3 separate regions of the Homo sapiens genome follow, and all the other regions are linked to region 3. The links come from fine-mapping of genetic effects on gene expression. A gene starts in region 3. Each other region holds a variant in brackets. All regions are shown on one strand. Distances are from middle to middle. Region 1 holds the start of RNF41 (ring finger protein 41). Region 2 overlaps PAN2 (poly(A) specific ribonuclease subunit PAN2). Region 3 holds the start of MYL6B (myosin light chain 6B).

Region 1 (8,145 bases), 70 kb after region 3:
TTCCAAAGTGCTTTCACATAAATTATTATTATTATTTCGAGATAGAGTCTCGCTCTGTCACCTAGGCTAGAGTGCAATGGCGCGATCTTGGCTCACTGAAGCCTTGGCCTCCCGAGTTCAAGTGATTCTCCTACCTCAGCCTCCAGAGTAGCTAGGATTACAGGCACCCACCACCATGCCCGGCTAATTTTTGTATTTTTAGTAGAGACGGGGTTTCACCATGTTGGCCAGGCTGGTCTCGAACTCCTGACCTCAGGTGATCCACCCGCCTCAGCCTCCCAAAATGCTGGGATTACAAGTGTGAGCCACCGCGCCTGGCCCACATAAATTATTATTATTTTTTTGAGATAGGGTCTTGCTCTATTGCCCAGGCTGGAGTACAGTGGCATGATCATAGCTCACTACAGCCTCGCCTTCCCAGCAGGCTCCAGCAATCCTCCCACCTCAGTCTCCCAAATAGCTGGGACCACAGGCACACACCACCATGCCTGGCTAATTTTTGTATTTTTGGTAGAGATGGGGTTTTGCCATGTTGCCCAGGCTGGTCTTGAACTCCTGGGCAGGCTCCAGCAATCCTCCCACCTCAGCCTCCCGAAGTGCTGGGATTACAGGCACCAGCCACTGCGCCCACCCCCAAATCTACACATTTAAACAAGTCAAGTAACCCTGCTGTAGTTTTTCTGTTGCTTCAACTGTCAAGTAGGGAAAATGATACCTGCCTTATATATTAATATAAGGTATATATAATATATACATATTTATTATATATATATATGTTATTTTTTTTTTGAGACAAAGTGTTGCTCTGTCGCCAGGCTGGAGTACAGTGGCACGATCTTGGCTCACTGCAACCTCTGCCTCCCGGGTTCAAGCGATTCTCCTGCCTCATCCTCCCAAGTAGCTGGGACTACAGGCATGTGCCACCATGCTGAGCTAATTTTTGTATTTTTAGTAGAGACGGGGTTTCACCATGTTGGCCAGGATGGTCTCAATCTCCTGACCTTGTGATCCGCCCGCCTCGGCCTCCCAAAGTGCTGGGATTATAGGCGTGAGCCACCATGCTTGGCCTATTTTTCTTTTTTTTTTTGAGATGGAGTCTTCCTCTGTCGCTCAGGATGGAGTGCAGTGATGCAATCTCCTCAGCTCACTCCAACCTCCACTTCCCAGGTTCAAACAATTCTCCTGCCTCAGCCTCCTGAGTAGCTGGGATCACAGGCATGTGTCACCATGCCAGGCTAATTTTTATTTTATTTATTTATTTATTTATTTTTTTTTTGAGACGGAGTCTGGCTCTGTCACCCAGGCTGGAGTGCAGTGATGCGATCTCGGCTCACTACAAGTTCCGCCTCCCAGGTTCACACCATTCTCCTGCCCCAGCCTCCCAAGTAGCTGGGACTACAGGCGCCCGCCAGGACGCCCAGCTAATTTTTTTTTTTTATTTTTAGTAGAGACAGGGTTTCACCACGTTAGCCAGGATGATCTTGATCTCCTGACCTCGTGATCTGCCTGCCTCGGCCTCCCAAAGTGCTGGGATTACAGGCGTGAGCCACCGCGCCCAGCCAATTTTTATATTTTAGTAGAGACAGGGTTTCAACATGTTGGCCAGGCTGGTCTCAAACTGGCCTCATATGATCCACCACCTTTGGCCTCCCAAAGTGCTGGGATTACAGGCGTGAGCCACTGCGCCCGGCGTAATATAAGGTGTATATATGTGTGTGTGTGTATATATGTGTATATACACGCGCGCACCCCTTATACATACTGTCTGCAAATCAAATGAAATAATAAATACGAAAGGAGGCTGGACGCAGTGGCTCACACCCGTAATCCCAGCACTTTGGGAGGCCGAAGTGAGTGGATCACCTGAGTCCAAGAGTTTGAGACCAGCCTGGGCAACATAGTGAAACCTTGTCTCTACAAAAAATACAAAAATTAGCCGGGCATGATGGCGTGAGTGCCTGTAGTCCCGGCTACTGAGGAGGCTGAAGGGGGAAGGTCAACTGAGCCGAGGAGGCAGAGGTTGCAGTGAGCAGAGATCGCAGCACCGCACTCCGGCCTGGGTGACAGAGTGAGACCCTGTCTCAAAAATAAATAAATAAATAAATAAATAAATAAATAAATAAATATGAAAGGATACTGAATACTGTTATCCTCAAGTAAGATTATTTGTAGCAACAGAATACAAAATAAGGCTGGGTGCAGTGGCTCATGCCTGTAATCCTAGCACTTTGGGAAGCCGAGATGGACCAATCACCTGAGGTCAGGGTTTTGTTTTGTTTTTTTTGGCGGGGGGTGTGGGGAGACAGAGTCTCACTCTGTTGCCCAGGTTGGAGTTCAGTGGTGGAATCTCAGCTCACTGCAACCTCTGCCTCCTGGGTTCAAGCAATTCTCCTGCCTCAGCTTCCCAAGTAGCTGGGACTACAGGTGCATGCAGCCATGCCCCGGCTAATTTTTTATATTTTTAGTAGAGACGGGGTTTCACTGTGTTGCCCAGGCTGGTCTCGAACTTTTGAGCTCAGGCAATCCGCCCGCCTCGTCCTCCCAAAGTGCTAGGATTACAGGCGTGAGCCACCGCGCCCGGCTACAGTCAGAGGTTTGAGACCAGCCTGGCCAACATGGTGAAACCCCATCTCAACTAAAAATACAAAAAATTAGCCAGGCATGGTGGCAGGTACCTGTAATCCCAGCTATTCAAGAGGCTGAGGCAGGAGAATCGCTTGAACCCAGAAAGAGGTGGCACTGAGCCGAGATTGTGCCACTGCACTCCAGCGTGGGTGACAGAGTGAGACTCCGTTTCAAAAAAAAAAAAAAACAAGAATGCAAAATAAATTTAGAGTACTGAGAGTCGGAGAGGAAATGCTTGACAAAAGCTTGTTCCTTCTTTTTACTAGAAGGCAGGGCTAGCCACAGGTCGGTCGGCTTAACATTGCATCACTCACATTCCCTACCACTAGTCCACTACATTCTTATTTGGGGCAAAACTATCAGCCAACAACACTATCAGTCTCTTGCCCTATTGTCAGACTCTAAAACCCCTGTATAGAAAGGGATAACACTATCACGGGCCAGTCCCCAAGAACAGTGGCCTCAATAACAGCCCCACTTGCTATTAAATGAAATGAAGTTTCTGAACGGGGAAGCAGTCTGTCAATCCCTCAAGCAAAACGCCTTCACCCCTCCTGGCTTTCTGCTCTTCCTCTAGCCCCCTCCTCCCCACTACCCAATTTCCCAAAGTCCTGAGTTAGGGAAGGCCTTCCAGTGTGTGGTGTGTGAACCCTGCCAGAGAGCCAGGCTGCAAACCAAGCGCAGGGATGTGAAGAATGTGAGATTCCTTCATGGAGGGCTGGGAGGGGGTGAGGAGCGGGGAAGGAATGAGAGGACAAGGCTGCCAACGACAAGGCATGGGAGAGGAGCCAAGCTATGGCGCTTCGAGGGCGGGGGTTTAGGTTCCACCGCCCCTGCCCAGGCTGGCCCCCGGAATGCTCCCTTCCTCCCCTTCTGGCCCGTCAATCATTGCCCATTTAAACACCACGCTGTTCCCCCAGTTCTGCAGGTGCCGGTCCTCCAGCTAGCCCCGGCCCCCTCCCGCACTTCTCAAAGCTCCCCTATTCCAATGGACCTTCCCCAACAACCCGTT[C/T]TCCAGAGCCCCCTTCTCACCTCCCGACTCCTCGCCAGTGCTGCTCCCTTCTCACATTTTTATCTCTACCACCATCCCTCCTCCTGAACCCCAGTTATTTCAACCCCCCGCCCCAATACCCCTGGGACATCACCTCCTCCCCTCCCACACCCTCTTTTAGGTGGAAGATCGCGCAGGCGCAGTACGCACCGCCCTGGAAGCGGCCTGGAGTCTCCGCAACCTGACCCAGTCGGAGCTGAGGCCGCAGCGGCCACAGTACTGCCCTGGTGCCGGGTCCCAGCCTCTCCCGGGAAGGGAAGGGAAAGGGGAAGGAGGGGAAAGAAGACTCCTACCACTCGTCGCCGCCTCAGACGGATCCTTTGCCCCGCCCACCGCTGCTACGCAACCCGGCGGAAGCTCGTCACCAAACCCCGCCTCTTTGTTTAACTCAGCCCCTACACCAGCAGCCAGGAGCTGCCTACGAGGAGGGACGAAGGCTGGCCAGGCCTCCACTCTAGACAGGAAGTCTAGTCTAGAGTCTATATGGTCCCAGCCAGGACTATGTAGCCATTTAGGAGGGAGAACTCTATGTTCTTCCCGGCAAAAACGTGTGGGCCTGGCCGGCCACGCTTCGCTTTGGAGGGGTGCAGGTGACTTGTGTCTTAGAGCTGACGCAGATTGTTGCGAGATCATTGCGGAGAGGCAGGCCTGCAGCGTGACCTGCTGCGGGTCCGGCCCCTCTCCCTTTTCCAGAGCCCTGGTCAGCATCCCAGAGCTTCGTAACCCCTTGACTCCTGTCATGGGAATGGATATTGCAGTTAACAAGGCGGCCGCGGGGTGGGGAGTGAGGGAGTCTGACCGCAAAGCTTAGATCTGGGGTGCTCAACGGGTTGTCTGCCTCTCTCCCAGGCGCTCTCCTGCCGTATCCACGATGGCTCCCCGAACACTTGTGGAGTTCCCTGAAACACCTAAGAGGAAGGAAGGGAGAAAAAATTTCCCTCTTCCTGAGTTGGGGTTTGATTTCCTTAGCTTACAACACCGTGGTGTTGGGGATGTGGGCGGTAGAGAACGTGGGATCCAAGGGAAGTCAATGTGGAGCCTAAAGAGCTCCGTGAGCAGATAAGGGATTAATTAAGCAAACCAAGGCATTACAATCACATGACTTCCTAGACTAATCTGGTATTAAATAGTATGGTATTTATTGTGGACATTGGCTAAGCAAATGCTAATGCACATTAATACACACATACACACATATCTTTATGTAATTTGTTTATACACAACAATACAGAGCTAGCTACCTTTTGTGGACAATTTGACAGGTCCCAAAAGGAACTAAAGTTTCAGGCCTCCTTTCTGCTGTCTTCTAGCGGGACTCTGAGATAAGTAAGATAAGAGTAGTATGGCCGGGCGCGGTGGTTCATGCCTTTAATCCCAACACTTTGGGAGACCGAGGCTGGTGGATCACGAGGTCAGGAGTTTGAGCCCAGGCTGGCCAACGTGGTGAAACCCCGTCTCTACTAAAAATACAAAAAAAGTAGCCGGGCGTGGTGGCGGGCGCCTGTAATCCCAGCTACTCGGGAGGCTGAGACAGGAGAATCGCTTGAACCCGGGAGGCAGAGGTTGCATTGCAGTGAGCCGAGATCGCGCCACTGCACTCCAACCTGGGCGACAGAGCAAGACTCCTTTGCCGGGGTGGAGCGGTGGGGCGGGGCGGGGAAGAGTAGTATGGCCAGGTGCAGCGGCTCACGCCTGTAATCCTAGCACTTTGGGAGGACGAGGTGGGCGGATCCCTTGAGGTCATGAGTCCGAGACCAGCCTGGGAAACATGGCGAAACTGTCTCTACAAAAAAAATACAGAAATTAGCCGAGGGTGGTAGTGCGAACCTGTAGTACCAGCTACTACGGAGGCTGTGGTGGGAGGTTGCAGTAAGCCAAGATTGCACCACTACACTCCAGCCTGGGTTACACAGCGAGACCCTGTTTCAAAAAAAAAAAAAAAAGGGACTAACAATGTTTCTCTCTTTGTCGCAGGTTCCATTTCTTCCAAGAAGGGTGAGCCTGCCTTTTGTCTCTGGTGTAAATGCCACTTTTCCCAGAGACCTTGACCAAGCTGGGTAGTGCATTAAAGATGAGAACCCCAAATCAGGAACAAAGATAACGGTTAGAGCAATAAAAAGGGAGGAAACCGTGTGTGCCTACTGTGTGCAAGGCACTTTTTTAAATATAACTTCCGTTTTCTCGTAAGATGGAATTACATATTTTTTGTCTTTTTTTCCCTTTTTGTGGAGAATGGGGTCTCGTTATATTGCCCAGGCAGGTCTGGAACTCCTGGACTCATGCTATCCTCCAGCCTATGCCTCCCTACGTGCTGGGATTACAGGCGTGAGCCACCGCGCCTTGCGGAATTGGAATTACATATGTTTAAATAGTCGAGAAATGAAGTGAAGCATTGAGCCAGGATTCAAACTTTTGTCCGCCAGATTCCGAAGCCCTTGCTCCTTTTCCCATTGTGTCACTCTTTGGAAAGAAACGTCTTAGAACCTAAGTGCATTCTCCCTAGCCAAGTTAAGGAAAACTGGGGGCCCTGTGCGCCTTCTAGTGGTGGATTTTTCCCCCTACAGAGCCAACTATCTCCAAGGTTCCTTTAATACCTGAAATTCGCCCCCTTCGCGGCGCACGAGTCTCTGATCCCGATTGGCTGGGCAGGGCAGGCGGCGGGACGCAGGGCGCGCCCGGGCGGTGCTGATTGGCCGGAGGAGGCCAGCCGGGGGAAACTTCCGGGAATGTCCGCACTCCCGCGTTCCACGGGGCAGCATCCGGCGGCAGCGGAGCCTGTGGCTCCCCCTGCGGGCTGCTCAGCGGCGTGCACAGTCCTGCCGGCTGGCTTGGGTGGGTGGTGGGCTGCGGGTAGGGGAGGGGATGGACCGAGTCCCGGCTTGTCGGGATGAGGGTTCCGGAAGATCTGGCCAGTAAGATTCTACTCCCTGGCTGTGCACCGGGTTCCCTACCCCTGTCTACGTCGGCTCCGCCACTTCGCGGCTTGAGACTAAAAGAGCATCCCGGCAGGGGGCCTTCCAGCCCCAAAGCAGCCTGTCCAGAGACCCCCAAATTCTGATCCTGAAGTTGGAGGCCTCCGGGGATGTTCTTTTTTAATCTTTTAGAAGGGTTAGAGGGGTTGAGGCTGCCTGACCCCAGCCTAATGGGGTAGGTAGGCCTTGGGAAGTGGAGCATGGGGGCAAAGGATCCAAGCATTGAGCCTTCATCCTCTATTCCCCATCCAGTGGGGTGCCGAGGCTCAGGCAGCATGACGACGGAGACCTTTGTGAAGGATATCAAGCCTGGGCTCAAGAATCTGAACCTTATCTTCATTGTGCTGGAGACAGGTGTCTATACTGGGGTGGCGGGTTCGCGGGATGGGGGTCGGGGGCAGGAGGGGAAGAACGCTGTCTGCGTTCTTAACTTGCTATGGGGATGGCAAGGCAAGCTGCAAGACACTCCTCACTCCCAATCTCTTCGACCCTGGGACAGAAAGTTGCAGTCAGGTATAGGGTAGATAGAACTCTTGCCAGATCTAGACCTCCTGTGCGACGCGGGCCTCTTTCCACTCAGGGCCCTCTCCATGGTGCTGGCCCCTGAACTCCCACCTCCACCCTCCACCACCCCTTCCACAATCCCAACCCTTTATGCCCCAGGGATTTGGGCTTTCCCCTGTTTGTACACCTTTTCCCTCATTCCACCAATATCCACATCTCATCCTTCTGAGAGATACCACTCCATTTATTTGACCATCCTCCCACCTCGATTTATCTGTTCCGTTCAGGCCGAGTGACCAAGACAAAGGACGGGCATGAGGTTCGGACCTGCAAAGTGGCGGACAAAACAGGCAGCATCAATATCTCTGTCTGGGACGATGTTGGCAATCTGATCCAGCCTGGGGACATTATCCGGCTCACCAAAGGGTAAGTCAGCTGGTGACTTCTGGCCTTCCAAAGGCAACAACAATCAAGAGTGGGGTTAACAGTCCCTATAACACTTCTGAGTACTGAATTTTGCTTTTTTTGCCTCCCATAGGTACGCTTCAGTTTTCAAAGGTTGTCTGACACTATATACTGGCCGTGGGGGTGATCTGCAGAAGATTGGAGAGTAAGTGCTGTCTTGGGGATTGGGATGAAGAAGCACCAGGGCAAAGGGGTTTGCAAGGAGGCAGCATAGGGTGTGCAGTCCAAGCCTCATTTCTGGACTTTTTCTGTTTGTTTGTTTGTTTGTTTTGAGAAACAGTCTCTGTCGCTCAGGCTGGAGTACAGTGGCATGATCTGGGCTCACTGTAGCCTTGACCTCCCGGGGTCAGGTGATCCTCCCACATCAGCCTCCCAAGTAGCTGAGACTACAGGCGTGCTTCACCACACCCAGCTAATTTTTTTGTATTTTTTATAGGGATGGGGTTTCGCCATGTTGCCCAGGCTGGTCCCAAACTCCTGGGCTGAAGTGATCCTCCCGCTTCTGCCTCCCAAAGTGCTAGGATTACA
Region 2 (8,174 bases), 170 kb after region 3:
TGAAACCCTGTCTCTACTAAAAATACAAAAAATTAGCCGGACATGGTGGCAGGTGCCTGTAGTCCCAGCTACTCGGGAGGCTGAGGCAGGAGAACTGCTTGAACCCGGGAGGTGGAGGTCGCAGTGAGCCAAAATTGTGCCATTGCACTCCAGCCTGGGTGACAAGAGTGAAACTCTGTCCAAAAAAAAAAAAAAAAGCAGTCTCATCCTGTTGCCCAGGCTGGAGTACACTGGTGCAATCATGGCTCACTCACTGCAGCCTTGACCTCCTGGGCTCAAGTGATCCTCCCGCCTCAGCTTCTCCAATAGCTGGGACCACAAGTATATGCCACCACACTCAGCTAAATTTTTTTTTTTTTTTTTGAGACAGGGTTTCACTCTCGTCACCCAGGCTGGAGTGCAATGATGCAATCTTGACTCACTGAAATCTCTGACTCCCAGGCTGAAGTGATTCTCCTGCCTCAGCCTCCCAAGTAGCTGGGACAACAGGAGCACATCACCATACCCAGCTACTTTTTGTATTTTTTGTAGAGACAGGGTTTCACCATGTTGCCCAAACTGGTTTTGAACTCTTGAGCTCAAGTGATCTGCCCGCCTCAGCCTCCCAAAATGCTGGGATTACAGGCCATAAGCCACTGTGCCTGGCCTATACTAGGCTAATTAAAAAAAAAAAAAAAATTTTTTTAGGCTGGGTGTAGTTGCTCACGCCTGTAATCCCAGCACTTTGGGAGGCTGAGGCGGGCAGATCATGAGGTCAGGAGTTCGAGGCCAGCCTGACCAACATGGTGAAACCCTGTCTCTACTAAAAATACAAAAAAATTAGCCGGGTGTGGTGGTGGGCGTCTGTAATCCCAGCTACTCAGGAGGCTGAGGCAGGAGAATCGCTTGAACCCAGGAGGCAGAGGTTGCAGTGAGCCGAGATTGCGCAATTGCACTCCAGCCTGGGTGACAGAGCAAGACTGCATCTCAAAAAAAAAAAAAAAATTTTTTTTCAAAGAGATGGGATCTTGCTATGTTGCTCAGGCTGGATTTCGCACTTCTAAATTTAAGGTCTGATGAGCAGGAATCTCTTTAGTATCTCCAGAAATATTAACACTGGTTACCAATCCTAAGTACTTGCAAGCAATGTCCCAGATCTCACCCTGAAGCCCAATCTAAACTGTCCACACACTTGGGTCTACTATGTAGCACTTACTGTTCAGGTTGTATCTGGAATTGAGATTCCGTTTGACATAATAAAGGATTGCAGGTACTTTCCAATTCATGTCAAACTGCACAGCTTCATGCTATAGAAGAGAAAAAGCACTTATGGCTAATGTATATCACCCTTTTCCTTTTCCCCCACTTCAGACGGAGGCCAGGACTCAGGTGCTAGTTTTTGTTTTTTTTCAGGTGCTATTTTTAAGTGCTAATGGTTTTTATTCCTGAGGATTCCTTCCTCCCTCCCTGTTGAATCTGCCTGGCATTCTATAGAGCCCTAAAGATAAGGATGCTAGGAAAAGGGGAAATGAAAGAAGAAACAGAACATGTTGCAACTAACCTTATCAATAGGTTCAATAAGAAAGTCATTGAACAGATACCACTGCTGGTGAGTAACGCCCTATGGAAATACAAAGAAAGCCTGTGGCGATACAAATTGATGGCTGGACCACTCTGTCTCAGACTCAAGGACAGATCTGGGACTCACTGTGGCCATCCCAGGAGTGTTCCTGCCCTCTACAACCTCACTCACCTCCTTGCGCTGGTGGTAGGTCTCTCCAACTTTGATGTGAGCCACCAGGCTGCCCCCTGTGCGTGAGTCCAGGATGTGTACCACAGTAGCCATCAGGTCATACACATAGACACCATGCTCCTCCTCTGCCCTGGCTGGGCCCCACTGTGAGGGGGGTACCCAGGCTGCTAAGCTAAGTTTAAGGATGGGGAAGGGAGGGGAATGGGGACAGAGGACAGGGAGTTGGGGGTATGGGGGATGGGGGACCAGGGTGGGTTATCTCCATCCTAGCCCATCTAGGACCCCAACACTGAACTGAGTGACTATGGAAAATCCCCTAACAGGTAAATACTAGGCCTTATTCTCTTCCTTTTCCCTCTGCTAAGTTTCACCTTCCCCTGCCCTCCTTTACCTTCTGCCCCACCTTCTCTCCCTTATTCCCTTTCCTCTTCCCGGTTTTTCAACAACCTGCATCTCATCCCCATCAGTCCAATTGCAAACATCCAGCCCTTTGTTTTTGGTCATCTTCATGCGAATGGAGAAAGGAAGCCAGACGTTCTTCAACTCCTCAATGGAGGGACACACCAGCACACCCTCTGGACTCCCTAGTTCCTTCCTATCAGGTCAGAAGAATTGGAAATTTGTTCCGAAAGAGGTCTTGATAAGAGGAACCACTGGGCAATTCAATCCTTTGACAACTCCCAAGACAGCACCTACCAATCAGCCAAAGCAAATTCCTTGTTCTTGGAGATTTCCCCACCGTGTTTCTTTACTGCCATCTTGAAGGCAACCTGAACACAGAAGAAAAACATCCAGTTCTTCAGGAATGTAATCATATATGGAGGTCAGAAGGGGGATAAAATGAAAAATTATTCCGGAAGCCTTGTTTCTAGTCTGAGTCCTTACCTCAGCCTGCATTCTCCAGAAATCAGCCTCTTTTGAGCTGTTCACCTCACAATTGATGACAAGAATATCTGGCAGATGGCGGATGTTGCGGGTCTGAATCTGAGAGGAAGAAACAAACAAGGAATGGCAGGGAATGTACAGGAAAAGGAGTCTGGACAGGGACCTGGGTCTGCGTCTTCAAACTGGGATTCCTCACTCCACCAGAGATCCCTGGATGGCAGTGCTGACAGAGCCAGCCCCACATGGGATAGTGGCTGAATCTCCATGGCAGGACCAGGACTCTAGTCCAGTCCAACAGTCCACTCACCGTGGGCTGGTACTTTTCACAGGTGTCACACCAGGCCTGTGTATTCTGGTCCAGGCAGATGCTTCGCTTCAGCACCTGAGCAAAGTCATAGTTCTTCCCAGTTTTATCTGAGGGAAAATTAGATGCTATACTCCTGGTTCTCCCCTCTACCCACAGTTAGTCCCCAACACCCTCTCCCTGATATTACAGGACATTTTGGGGAGCCTTCCCAACTGAGCTGAAGGGTATACCACTTTTGCTACCATCAGGGTAGGAGAGTGTGAAAAGCAGAGTGGATGAGGCTCGCACGGTCTCACTGCCACAGCGGCAGAGGCTGCAGTTCTCCATCTCACAGCTGAAGAGCTGCCCAATAACAGAGTCCCCCGATGAGCAAAAGCTGCTAAGAGTGGAGAGGATGATATATGCACATTGAGGAAGTTAGGAGACCTTTTAAATCACAGAGGGGCCTGTCATGATGGCTTTAACTATTTCTATCCTGATTTCATACCTGCCTCCAGCACCTCGATAAGCCTGTGGTATTTCCAGCTCCTGCATATCTTGATGCAGTTGAGTGAGAATGAAGCGATTCCACCTCTGAATGAGCCTGGCCAGATTGCCCTTGCCTGAGGCCTCATCTGAGTCAGCCAGGATTAGACCGAGGGCTGAGGCCTCAGGAATAGTACGGAATGCCCGAAGAAAATTATTGCCCTGGAAATGTGTTGGTGGAAAGGGGTTATTTTGTCTTTTGTGTCCACCTTCCTTCCCCTTCCATTTTAAGTGTCTCCAAGTACTGACCTGGCAAGGGTCACCACGAGAGAGGTCCAACATGTGAAACAGGAAGCCCAGCTCACATGCCAGACAGAACTCCTTCTGGCAAAGGTGGTTTTGAATTAGACAGCGTACAGGCTCCAGGAAATAGAGCACCTGGAGGGAAAAGCAGAAGAACTGATGTAGGAAACTGGCCTGGGGGTGAGGAGAAATATGGAGGTTAAGTGAGCTGGTGGAGAAAATGTCCCAGAAGCAGGAGTCCACCGAAGCAGTGAGTCCACCAAACCGGTGGAGCTCAGAGGAGACTTGAAAGTTGTAGAGGCAAGAAAGAATTGTAGAGGAGACCATGGTAAAGAGAACACGGCTGAGGAGACCTGGAAAGAGCAGGGTCGAGAGCCATAGGGAAGAAGAAAAGCAGCAGGCACGTTCAAGTTACAGGAATACCCAACCCTTACCTGGATCATGCAGTTACAGTAGGCGTTGGGAATGTGGGGCTCTAATCCAGCAAACAAGGTCTTATTGTAGTGTTTGAAGTCAAAGTCCTCCAGCCCTAGCTTGGAATATTTGATGGTCACCTAAGGTAGAAATTGTCTGAGCAAGACAAGGATATTCTCAGAGTCCCCAAATCTTTCCAGTAGCCACAGCCTTTCCTAGAGCCTTCCTCCTGGGTCCAGGGTGGTAGTTGAAGGCCTCCTGACTGAGTCCTTCAATCCTTTCTCATATGACTTCCTTCCCAGGGTACCTTTCCCCACATCCCACAGGCCCTGATGTCCCCCAGCACCTTGCGGTATTTCTTAGAAACCATGTGGAGATGTGGTTCCTCTTCTCGTCCTACTGGTGACTCAGTGACCTGGCTGAAGCTGTCAAATTCACTGTCTGACTCCTTGAGTCTGTAGGGTATCTAGGGATTTTAGGAAGAGGTAACCTTGTTGGATGTCTTGTCATCTTTGGCTTCACACTCATTTATCCCAACATTGAAACAGCCACCAAGTCCTGAACCTTCTATATTCATAGCACTCTCAGCATCCGCTGCTTCCTTTCTATTTCCACTGCCATCACTCTGCTTCAGCACAGATGGACAACTGTGATGGCGTCCACACTGGTCTCCCTATGTTCACTCTGTCCAGCACACCACTACCAAATTAACCCTTGCAGAATGCTGCTTTCTGTGTATTACTTCCTCTATTATAGACTGGTGTTCAAAGCTTCGCAATCTGGCCACTTCTAATTTTAATCGCTCACTACATCCCAATACCAACAGCTACTCCGGCCAGACTGGTATACTCAT[G/A]TAGTCCCCCTCAGATATGTGTTTTGCATTTATGCCTCTTGAGATCTTTACTAACACTCTTCTCTCATCTTGGATATTCTCCTCTGTTACTATCTACTTAACTGATATCCCACCTTTCCAGCTTAATACCCAGCTCTTTCATTACACCTTCCTTGGTCACTTTAGCCTGGAATAACATTTTTCCTCCAAACAGCTCTGGCACTAAATGCTTATGACATTCCTTCAGCATTTAACAACAGAACGTAATTTCTGATATGGCTATGTCTTCTCTTCACCAACCAAATACTAAACTTCCTAACAGCAAGGACCCTAGCTTCTCTATCTTTGAATCCTCCCTAACACCTAGCATAGTTCCATCAATTTGGTTGGTTACCAACAGGATCTAAAAACAAAAGAAAGACTAGTAAAGGAAAAAGATAGGAGAAACTTCAGTGGGCCGGGGTCGGGGCTGACCCTCCACTCTGAACACACCTGATTGCGCAGCCTGGTGCGGGGATTGGGCGCATAGCCAATGAAGCCCACCTTCTTCATGGTGCGCAGAATCTCTGCATCCACGGGTGGTGCTCGCCTACAATCCAGCATAGTTCTAGGACTTAAAGAGTTGTGGTGTACACTGGTCCACTCCCCAATCCCCAAGGGTCCAGAGAAAAAGAAAATACTGAAGGTAGACAAAAATCAGGAAAGTAGTAGAATAACAACAGGGCTAGCAGAGAATTCTGGTATCTTGGCCCTTTCCCTGTCCCTCCCGCCTTTTGGCCCAGAGGTAGGGTACAACCTGGGAGCTGGAGCAGAGTTGGCAGCAGGCCAATCAGAGAGAAGTGTGTCAGTGGTGAGTGGGACAGGGATGAGGGAAAGAGGCAGCAGGTCCTGGCTCCAGTCCAGAGGAGGCAGTGAGTCCACGAGACACGGCAAAGCAAACTCAGTCTCACGGGAGTAGGGGTTGAAGGAAGGCTCCGGGGAATCAGTCCAGAGGTGCACACAGCCCTCAGAATCCCCAAAGGCCAGAGCCTGCTTGCTGGCTGACACATCAAATGTCATTAGCAGAGGCCCCACAGGATTCACATGAAAGATATCGGCTGGGTTGGCCAGGCCTGTGGGTTCACAGAATTGGCACTGCCCTACAAAGGAGGAAGAAACCCACTGAGCCCTAGAAAGTGAAAGGGAGCCATATTCTTATGCCCTTCCTATCCTCTTCCCCTGATTTCAGGACAAGATGGGCCCCAAATCCATGCCTAGAGACAGAATGCCACTTCGTGCCTTCCATAAACCACAGATGGTTCGCTACTCAGCAAAGAGCAATTCTACAGTTATTTTGCCTACTTTATCTTTACCTTTTTCCATGTTCCTCATATTCAAGAAAATAAAAGCTCTAATCTCTGGCCAAACCCAAGTAAAACCTTGGGACCCTGATGAAAGGTTACTTCTTTCCCCAACAAAGAGGTTTCAGGATGAGTACTCCTTCGGGTTCTAGCTCTCCTTTGCTCATCGATCCCTCCTACCCAATCCCATATGCCCTTCATACCTGACTGAGAGATGATAGCAAGACGAGAAGTATATGTAGGAATGAAGCGCAAGAAGGCAGGATCCACATGTACTTGAAGTGGTGTGATGGCACGCATCATGCGCAAATCATACACCTTGAGGAAACGGTCGCAGGCCAGGCCAGTGAGGCGGCTGGAGAAGCCACAGGCAGCTAGCAGGTTGCCATGCACATCAAAGTCTGACAGACTTCCTGAGAAGGCATCAAACTCATGTTCCACCTTAAAAGTACGGAGGTCTCTCAGGGAAACCTAGAAAAAAAAAATTCAGTTATCTGCAAATTCTGTTATCAGGAAAAATACCTGCCACCTACCTAACCCAGTGGGGTCCCTACCAAAGGAACTAGGGCTTTAGGACAGGGAAAGTTAAAGCACAGAAAAGGCAAACAGAGAAGCCCAGAGCCAGAAGGGGCTTCAGGGAGACTTCATTATCATAGAAAACATCAAGCTGCAAAATAATCTCATAGTAGAACATCACTGAGTAGGAAGTGAATTCACTCCACTCATCCCTCACCTCCAATCCAACTACACCCCAGAGTTAAGGGAAAGCAGATCGCAATCAGGTATCTAGTGAAACAGGGCCCTGCAGTGGGAGGAGAAATGGAACTTGGCCACCTTGCCAGACGTGTGGCCGCAGAAGAAGAAGCGATTTGTCTGTCTCATGATGGTGACTCCAGGCGTCTCTACTGCATACTGGAGAGGGAAGCAGGAAAAACCAGTGAGAAGAATGATTTTTCCCACAGACCAAGGGAACAGAAAGGTCACACCCACATCTCAGGCACATTACCAGCCCAAGCATACCCTGCCCCCGCAACAACCTCAGACCCCACATAGGTCTTTCTTGCCCCAAGCTTGTACCTTCTGAGTCTCCTGGACAGTGTTAAGATCAATCTCTATTATGTGATTCTGCAGCCCACCAACGAGTAGAGTGCTGCTGTCAGTCAGTAGGAGACTGTGCATATCCTCATTCTCATCCAGCCTGGTGGGGAGAGGAAAGGCTAAGGGGCCCAGGCCTTACAAGCTGCCAATCCCTTAGCCTTCCCACCCTATGAGGCATCCTCGTTCCTAGTCCAGAGCTGAGAAGCCACTTACAGGTAATCAAATATAATGAGGCCCCCACGGGCCATATACTTGAGGTTGTTCTTGGTGAGAAAAAGGATACCATTCTCCAGGCTCTGGATCTGCCGAATATCATCACTGCCATTGACTTGAAAGGATGAGTAGCGCTCCAAGGCTGGGCCAAAAAATGAAGTGGCATGGCCCTATAGAGGACAAAGACAACAGAGACACTTAGAGTGGAGGGGCAAGGGCCACCCTACGGCCAGGTCAGGGACTGAACATGGCTCAGCTTGGATCCTTTCTTGCTTGGCCTTTGTGACTAGGAGCAACTGGGGCAAAAGGCTAGGAACCAGTCAATCTTAGTGATAAAGACACTGATAATACTGTCTTATGTTTGTTTAATGTGTTACACAGCATTTTGGTAAACTCTACCTCATTTTGTCCTCACAATGACCCTGCTGAATAGGTAATGGCTCACTTGGTTAGAACAGTATATAGAAGGTCAGGGACATGGTCCAATTCTCTACTGGCCAGCTGGCTTTCTTATGTTTCACATCTGGGAGGATGTGCATAAGGTTATATGCAAATACTATATCATTTTCTATAACGGATTTAGGC
Region 3 (8,174 bases):
CACCGTGTCAGGCCAGCAGCAGCTTTTTTTTTTTTTTTTTTTTTGAGACAGAGTCTCATTCTGTTGCCCAGGCTGGAGTGCAATGGTGTGATCTCGGCTCACTGCAACCTCCACCTTGCGGATGCAAGTGATTCTCCTGCCTCAGCCTCCTGAGTAGCTGGGACTACAAATGCCCGCCACCACGCTGGGCTAATTTTTGTATTTTCAGTAGAGACGGCGTTTCACCATGTTGTCCAGGCTGGTCTCGAACTGACCTCAGGTGATCCGTCTGCCTCGGCGTCCCAAAGTGCTGGGATTACAGACATGAGCCATTGCACCTGGCCATGAAGATATTTATATACATCTCACATTATTTCCTTAAGTGGGGCCAGGCGCCGTGGTTTACACCTGTAATTCCAACACTATAATCCCAGCACTTTGGGAGGCAGAGGCCAGCGGATCACGAGGTCAGGAGTTCAAGACCAGCCTGGCCAACATAATGAAACCCCATCTGTACTAAAAAGACAAAAATTGCTGGGCGCGGTGGCTCACACCTGTAATCCCAGCACTTTGGGAGGCCGAGGCGGGCAGATCACGAGGTCAGGAGATTGAGACCATCCTGGCTAACACAGTGAAACCCTGTCTCTACTAAAAAATACAAAAAATTAGCTGGGTGTGGGACGCCTGTAGTCCCAGCTTCTTGGGAGGCTGAGGCAGGAGAATGGCATGAACCCGGGAGGCGGAGCTTGCAGTGAGCCAAGATTGCACCACTGCACTCCAGCCTGGGTGACAAGAGTGAGACTCCATCTCAAAAAACAAACAAACAAACAAAAACTATAACAACTAAATATAAGAAATAGCCAGGTACGGTGGCGCACGAATTTGAGGTTGCAGTGAGCTATGATTGTGCCACTGCATCCAGAGCCTGGGCAACAGAGCAAGCCCCTGTTTCTCGGGGGAGAGGAAAGGAAATGTATACAGAGGCCGGGCGCAATGGCTCATGCCTATAATTCCAGCACTTTGGGAGGCCAAGGCGGTGGCTCACCTGTCAGGAGTTCGAGACCACCCTGGCCAACATGGCAAAACCTTATCCCTACTAACAATACAAAAAAAAAATTAGCCAGGTATGGTGGCACACACCTGTAATCCCAGCTACTTGGGAGGCTGAGGCATGAGAATCACTTGAAACCAGGAGGTGGAGGTTGCAGTGAGCTAAGATGCACCACTGCACTCCAGCCTGGGCCACAGAGCAAGACTCCTGTCTCCCAAACAAAACACAAAAAGGAACGTATACTGAATAAACATGCTTGAAGAGAGCAGCTAAAGGGCCCTAATACAATCTCCTTCTGCTTCTCTTCCTCTCAACCTTTTCCACTGTGCTCTCTGGGAGCCTATTTCCACATAACACTTCCCACCCATTCCACCTTTCTTTTTTTTTTTTTTTTTTTTTTTAGGGGGGTACAGAATTTCACTCTTGTTGCCCAGGCTGGAGTGTAATGGCATGATCTCGGCTCACCACAACCTCCACCTCCCGGGTTCAAGCGAATCTCCTGCTTCAGCCTTCCTGAGTAGCTGGGATTACAGGCATACACCACCACGTCTGGCTAATTTTGTATTTTTAGTAGAGACAGGGTTTCTCCATGTTGGTCAGGCTTGTCTCGAACTCCCGACCTCAGATGATCCGCCCACCTCGGCCTCCCAAAGTGCTGGGATTACAGGCATGAGCCACGGCGCTCAGCCTTTCTCTTTTTTTTTTTAGATGGAGTCACCCTCTGTTGCCCATGCTGGAGTGCAGTGGCACAATCTCAGCTCACTGCAACCTCCGCCTCCTGGGATTCTCATGCCTCAGGCTCCCAAGTAGCTGAGATTGCAGGCGCCTGCCACCACGCCTGGCTAATTTTTGTATTTTTAGTAGAGACAGGGTTTCACCATGTTGGCCACGCTGGTCTCAAACTCCTGACCTCAGGTGATCCACCTTCCTTGGCCTCCCAAAGTGTTGGGATTACAGGAATGAGCCACTACGCCCGGCCTGCTTTTTTTAAAAAATTTTTTAAGGACAGGGTCTCACTCTGTTGCCCAGGCTGGAGGGCAGTGGCACAAACATGGCTCACTGCAGCCTTGACCTACTGGGCCCAAGTGATCCTCCCACCTCAGGCTCCTGAATAGCTGGGATCAGAGGCACACGTGCCACCATGCCTGGCTAATTTTTGAATTTTTTTTGTAGAGTTGGGGTCTCTTGCTATGTTGCCATGGCTGGTCTTGAACTTCTGGGCTCAAGTGATCTTCCCACTTTGGACTCCCAAAGTGCTGGGAATGTTCATGTCTGATTAACCCCAGTTTTGGGAATGCCTCTAAGATTTCTATTTTATCTACTGTTCTTTGTGTAAGAGCATGTACTTACCATAATTTCTCCTTAGATCAAAACAATCTTGATCATAAAGCCTGGCTTACTGAGTATTCTTGCCTTTCCCTGCAGGGTAGACTTCAATTGTCCTAGAGGTTCCTTCCCTGTGGTAAGTCCTGGGGTCAGGACTTACTCCAGGGGATGATGTCCTGGGGATCCACCATCGTGTCTCACCACTACCCAAGACACAGACATGGCTTCTGTTCATAAATTCCTATTAAATATTTCTAAGAAACTGGATTTGTCAGCCTCCTTCCTCAACCTCTTAGCTTCCTTGGACTTTGGGGGTAAGTGTGCATAGACCTGTGCACTGCGGAACAGCTCCCCAATGGCTTTCCATATTCTTTCAATCTAATGGGCCACTCTGGACAGCTGAACATGTGGAGGTTCCTGGAGGACGGCATGCCTAGGGAAGGCAAGCAAGCTTCGGACTCACCTCCCTCCCTGCCCACAAAATGCAATCTCTAAGAATATACAGGCCAGTCAAGGTAGGTCATACCTATAATCCCAGCACTTTGGGAGGCACCTGAGATGGGAAGATCACTTGAGCTCAGTTTGAGACTGGGTAACACAGTGAGACCTCATTTCTAGAAAAAAACAAAACCAAAGAAAAATAAGAATATACAAATCACATGCTAAGCAGGGAGAGGAGAGAGGAGAGACAGGCATTTCTCACAGATAATTCACATATATAATCACCCTATGCCCAGTTAAGACCATGTTTCGTCCAGTTCCTGTTATTTATGATCAAGACAGGGATGGCACAGAAAATGAAGGATAGCCTTCCCATCTCTGCAAGGGTCTTAACGTTTTTTCCCTGTACTACTTCTCTATAGAAAATGCTAGAAAGTCAGATGATGCCATAACCACTCATACTTGGCAAAATGCCAAAAATGGGAAAAGGAAAGAAAAAAAATTACAAGAGCCATATTTTGAAATCAATGTCTGCAAAAGTAATGAAAGCCACACAAAGGCATCTATAATGTGGCCCTTTCCCAGTCTTATAACCACTTAAAAATGTATTCCTTCTTCCTCTCCGTCTCTTCACAACACCTATTGATCCTTACTTCATTGATGTAAAATGGGGAAAATATCAGCGACCTCATACCTTGGGAAGATTAAAGGAAAGTTATTTAACAAAAACTTATACAGCACTTATGCTGTGCCAGGCCTATTCTATTTTACACTTTTTTTTTTTTTTGAGTTGGAGTCTCACTCTGTCACCCAGGCTGGAGTGCAGTGGTGCGATCTCGGCTCACTGCAACCTGCCGGGTTCAAGTGATTCTCCGACCTCAGCCTCCCAAGTAACTGAGATTACAGGCGCCCGCCACCAGGCCCAGCTATTTTTTTTTTTTTTTTTTTTTTTTTTTTTTTTTGTATTTTTAGTAGTGACAGGGTTTCACCATGTTGGCCAGGCTGGTCTCGAACTCCTGACCTCAGGTGACCCACCTGCCTCGCCTCCCAAAGTGCTGGGAGGTGTGAGCCACCAAGCCCGGCCCTATTTTACCAATAATAACACTTCGAATCCTCCGAAGAGCCCTATGAGGTAGGTACCATTATCATTATTTTACAGATGAGGAACTGAGGCCCAGGAGAGATAACTAAACCTGCTGAGGGTCACTAACTAGGACCTGGTAGAACCAGGATTTAAATCTGAGTAGGCTGTCTGAACCCCATCCACTTGAGCACCCTCTGAGATAATTTAGCCCCTTCACCGGTACGAGATCTATGGCGGCCTCCAGAAATGGTTGCTAACTTACTATTATCGTTATTTCTGTCGTACAATTCATTTCTACCTTTCCAATAAACTTTCCCCAACCAGTGAACCTCACTTACTGCCCATAAAGTTCACCTGTGCCTCACCACCCTGCCATCGCCCGAGTTTTCTGCTCTGATCTAATCCTCACACGCCTGTGCAGCACCAGCTTCCAACACCAGGTGCACCGCCAGGGTATTTACTGATCCAGTGAGTGAAGGTGGGCCCGGCCGGGCTGGTTCCCATCCTCTGATCAACGCCTAGGGGAACCAGTGAACTCCAATGCTGACCATAAGAGTTTCAGAAAGTAGGGCTGGAAAGCCCAGCCCTCCGCTCAGAGACCTGTGAAGATCGAGGAGGATGGCGCATATGCTGCCGCAGGATGGAAACCTCGATCAGAGAAGGCTGGGGCAGGTGACTGGGCTTAATTGCAAATTTTAACATTTACTTCAGCAACCAGCTCATTAAAAACAAACTACTCTGAGGCCTCTTTTTTTTCTACCAAACCGCGAGAGGAAGCAAAAGAGAGTGCAGCGGTTCTCCCCGGGGCCGTTAAGTGCTTCCAGCTATCTGACCTCCACGCTGCCTGCTGCAGCCTCAATCTTTCCCCAGGTTCTGAGTTCTTTCAGCAGTAGGTCCAGGAAAACAGCCGCCCCGCCCCCTCCACCTCCCGAGACTAGGAGCCCGCCAGGGTTAAGTAGGAGGGATACCCTAGGGGCCCCGCAGGGTTTTTAGGGTTGGGGTGGATTGGAAATTGTTCATTGCCTTTCAGTTCCGGGACATAAAGCGCGCTGGAAGGACACTGAGTCACCAACCACCGCCATGGGCCGGAAGCCACCGCCCTCGCGTCAACTGCAATCTAGAGCGCGGCGCATCCCGTGAGCCCGCGGGGAACTACGACTCCCGGCATGCTCCGCGGCCACCGGAATTAACCCTTCAGGGCTGGGGGCCGCGCTATGCCCCGCCCCCTCCCCAGCCCCAGACACGGACCCCGCAGGGTGAGTTTTTGGGGGCTGAGGAGGGCCATTTTCTTTAAGATTTAGTGGGGGTGCGTGAGTGTGTGTGTGTGTGTGTGTGTCGTGTGTGTGTGATGTATTTTGTAAAAATGGGACAATTTGCAGTCATGAGATTCAGACGCTGTTTTGCGAATGGGAGACCCAGCATCAACCCCGGGGCCTAAGTGGAATCACTGCTATCTTCCTCAGAATGCTACCTAAATCCTTTCCTAATTTACCCCAGAACAAAAGTAGCCTGCAATCCCTCCCCACTCCCAAACGCCCCCCAACTTGGACTCTCTCCCAGCGCCCCTGGCAAGGTTTGTGACCTGGCCCCTGAGTCAGGATTTTTATTATACCCCTGGTTGTGGGGTGAATACTCATGGAGCCATAGGAGCGCCCACATCCTCTTGGATTAGGGAATTTAAGCCGTCTCCCAGAGCCTGCCCTTCTCCTCAGGTGCCACCAAAGGGTCCCCACAGGTTCAGCAAGCACCCTACCTTTTGTTTGTCTTGAATGACCGTGGGCTTGTGGAAGGTTTCTTCCATGGAAGAATGGGTAGCAGATGTTAAACCTGATCTTTGCCCCCACTCCTGCCCCTAAAACAACACTGGGCACAGGAGACAATGAGGGATGTCATACTCCTGTTTTTATGACTATTCTTCCTTTATACTGTGAATAGTTCCAGTTCTTGGCTGGGTGGGGGCTCAGGAACTACAAGTATTAGGGATCATTAGACTCTAAGGTTAACTACCCCTGCTCTTTACAAAGCCATGGTCAGAAGGGAGTGGAGGGGCTGGGCAGATGGGCTTCTTGTTTTTGTCATTGCTCCCAGACCACACTTTAACTTGTTCCAGTTCACACAAGCCTCCCTGGCTGCTACCCCTCACCCCACCCTTCAAGAAGACTAAAGCTGCTGGATCACCTGCTTTGCCTCACCACCCCCATCTCAGTGCCACTGGCAAGCATCCTATCCTCACCCTGGAGGTTAACTACCTCATTCTGGGCAGTCTCTGGCTTCCTCCCCTACCCCTAAAGGAAACATTGTTCTTTTCTGGTCAGCCTTTGGGGATAAGGGGACAGAGGGAAGAAGACCTTGGGGCAGGAGTCCTGAACCATAGGAGGCCAGGGGAGTGAGGGCAGGCGGTTATATCTCTCCTCTACCTCATCTTTGCCACAGCCAACTGGCTCCCTGCCCCTGCCCCCGCCCCTTGACATCCCAGACTCCCTGGCTATTTAAACAGAGATGGGTGCCCCCATCCGCACACTGTCCTTTGGCCACCGGACATCATGCCTCCCAAGAAGGATGTTCCCGTGAAGAAACCAGCAGGGCCCTCCATCTCCAAACCTGCTGCTAAGCCAGCAGCAGCAGGGGCTCCTCCAGCCAAGACCAAAGCTGAGCCAGCTGTCCCCCAGGCCCCTCAGAAAACCCAGGAGCCTCCAGTCGATCTCTCCAAAGTGGTGGTGAGTCTCTGGAAAGTGAAGATAGAATTGGAGGGGGTGGTTTGAGGGTGGGATACAGCCTAGGGGATTAGGGGGTATCTAGAAGGTAGGGAATCAGTGAGCCCTGGAATGAGATTGGGGCTTTCCCTTAGTCCCCCATTTGGAAGCATCCAGTCTTATGACTCTGCTGTTGTCTTTGCTGTTCTCTCCCTCTAACCTATAATCATGTGTGTACAGCACATACACACTCACTTACCCCCTGCTGGAGGCAGGGACTCTTAGATGGGGAACATCTGGGTTCTGAGAACAGTTTCAAGGTGAAGGGAAGAGAGCTGTTGCCTGCCCCTGGCTGGTGGTTCAATTCAAAAGGCCTGCAGCTCTGAACTCCAGGAGGGGAGGCTGAAGAGGACAGACTTGTTAGACAATCACAGCTGGGGGCCAGGGGTAAATTTAGCCTTTGTTCAGCCCCCAGTTATGTGTGGGATGCAGGGCTCAGGGCAATGGAGGGAGGGAAACAGGTGGCATGGGATTAACCCTGTTCCCAGGAAACCCTCCCCACTGTAATTCCTCTTCTTGGGATTCTCCCAAGGCCCAGAGCTGGGAATGGGACTGAGGTGGCTGGGCTTCCAGCCTGGTCCCTTTGGGCCCCTCCTCAGAAGTGGCTGCCAGTTGGTTGGGAGGAGTGCGGGAGAGGGATTGAATAAACTCTCATCTCTCCCCACCTGCTTTTTTCTTCCACAGATCGAGTTTAACAAGGACCAGCTGGAGGGTGAGGAGAAGCTCATCTAAGGCCACTGTCCCATCCCCAATCCCCTGGTCAGATTCTCTTTCTATTCCCCTAACCCCAGTCCTGACCTTGAAACCTCCCATACTAGTCCTCTTTTCCTCCCTTGTTCTGTTCACATAGTTTCTGAAATTCCCTTCTGTCTGGGGGTGATGGGAACCCTAGTCAGTGTCTACACTGACCCTTCCTTATACTTTAGAGTTCAAGGAGGCCTTCGAGCTGTTTGACCGAGTGGGGGATGGCAAGATCCTGTACAGCCAGTGTGGGGACGTGATGAGGGCCCTGGGCCAGAACCCCACCAACGCCGAGGTGCTCAAGGTCCTGGGGAACCCCAAGAGTGATGGTGAGGGGACCCTTGGGAACAATTTGGGTTTTTAGTTTTCAAAAGTTGGATGTTGGTAACAAAAAGAATGAGGTGGATCTCAGGACTTCAAAAACTGTCAAACACAGAAGCAGGAAAATATCCTAAATGCTGAATAGGATGAAAGCATTGTGGTAGGGTTGGGAGCTGGGTCCTATGTAATACTACAATGACCTCTCCTTTACCTCTCTCCAACCTCCAGAGCTGAAGTCGCGGCGTGTGGACTTTGAGACTTTCCTGCCCATGCTCCAGGCAGTGGCCAAGAACCGAGGCCAAGGCACATATGAGGACTACTTGGAGGGGTTTCGTGTGTTTGACAAGGAGGGGAACGGCAAAGTCATGGGAGCAGAGCTCAGACATGTTCTCACCACCCTTGGTGAGGCAGGCAAGGGGGACCAGAACTCCTTTAGAGTGGAGAGGGGGATGGGGTGGGCCAGAAAGACTGGACAGAT

What was found. PIP is the estimated chance that this variant, and not a neighbour inherited with it, causes the effect.
Region 1: its variant is fine-mapped to the expression of MYL6B in blood mononuclear cells (TOPMed, PIP above 0.99). The same link has a PIP of 0.9 or more in adrenal gland, gastroesophageal junction, lung, thyroid, tibial nerve and whole blood.
Region 2: its variant is fine-mapped to the expression of MYL6B in whole blood (TOPMed, PIP above 0.99).

The regions. Positions count from the first base shown.
Region 1 is chr12:56,217,934-56,226,078 of GRCh38, forward strand. It overlaps RNF41 (ring finger protein 41), which reads right to left and starts at 3,989. Exons shown (of 7, transcript NM_005785.4): 1 at 3,827-3,989. NABP2 (nucleic acid binding protein 2) reads left to right here and starts at 6,409. Exons shown (of 7, transcript NM_024068.4): 1 at 6,409-6,508; 2 at 6,901-7,002; 3 at 7,440-7,578; 4 at 7,691-7,762. The coding sequence starts at 6,924. RefSeq lists enhancers at 3,911-3,960, 3,947-4,881, 4,181-4,400, 4,882-5,815, 5,232-5,526 and a silencer at 6,258-6,497. The variant C/T (reference allele first, on the strand shown) is at 3,638.
Region 2 is chr12:56,320,883-56,329,056 of GRCh38, forward strand. It overlaps PAN2 (poly(A) specific ribonuclease subunit PAN2), which reads right to left. Exons shown (of 26, transcript NM_014871.6): 3 at 7,590-7,759; 4 at 7,356-7,476; 5 at 7,113-7,190; 6 at 6,482-6,749; 7 at 5,735-6,077; 8 at 5,431-5,527; 9 at 4,453-4,572; 10 at 4,127-4,246; 11 at 3,699-3,827; 12 at 3,412-3,611; 13 at 3,167-3,303; 14 at 2,925-3,031; 15 at 2,618-2,716; 16 at 2,429-2,502; 4 more. Among named protein-coding and RNA genes, the nearest start is that of CNPY2, 9.0 kb to the left of the region's middle. RefSeq lists a silencer at 329-529. The variant G/A (reference allele first, on the strand shown) is at 4,960.
Region 3 is chr12:56,147,495-56,155,668 of GRCh38, forward strand. MYL6B (myosin light chain 6B) reads left to right here and starts at 5,093. Exons shown (of 8, transcript NM_002475.5): 1 at 5,093-5,137; 2 at 6,379-6,598; 3 at 7,319-7,346; 4 at 7,561-7,704; 5 at 7,925-8,098. The coding sequence starts at 6,425. It overlaps LOC124902942, which reads left to right and starts at 4,333. Exons shown (of 3, transcript XM_047429954.1): 1 at 4,333-4,553; 2 at 4,912-5,137; 3 at 6,315-6,403. The coding sequence starts at 4,500. The coding sequence ends at 6,349. MYL6B-AS1 (MYL6B antisense RNA 1) reads right to left here. Exons shown (of 3, transcript NR_186043.1): 3 at 3,302-3,491. LOC124902943 (a long non-coding RNA gene) reads right to left here and starts at 6,379. Exons shown (of 2, transcript XR_007063328.1): 1 at 5,635-6,379. RefSeq lists an enhancer at 4,167-4,246.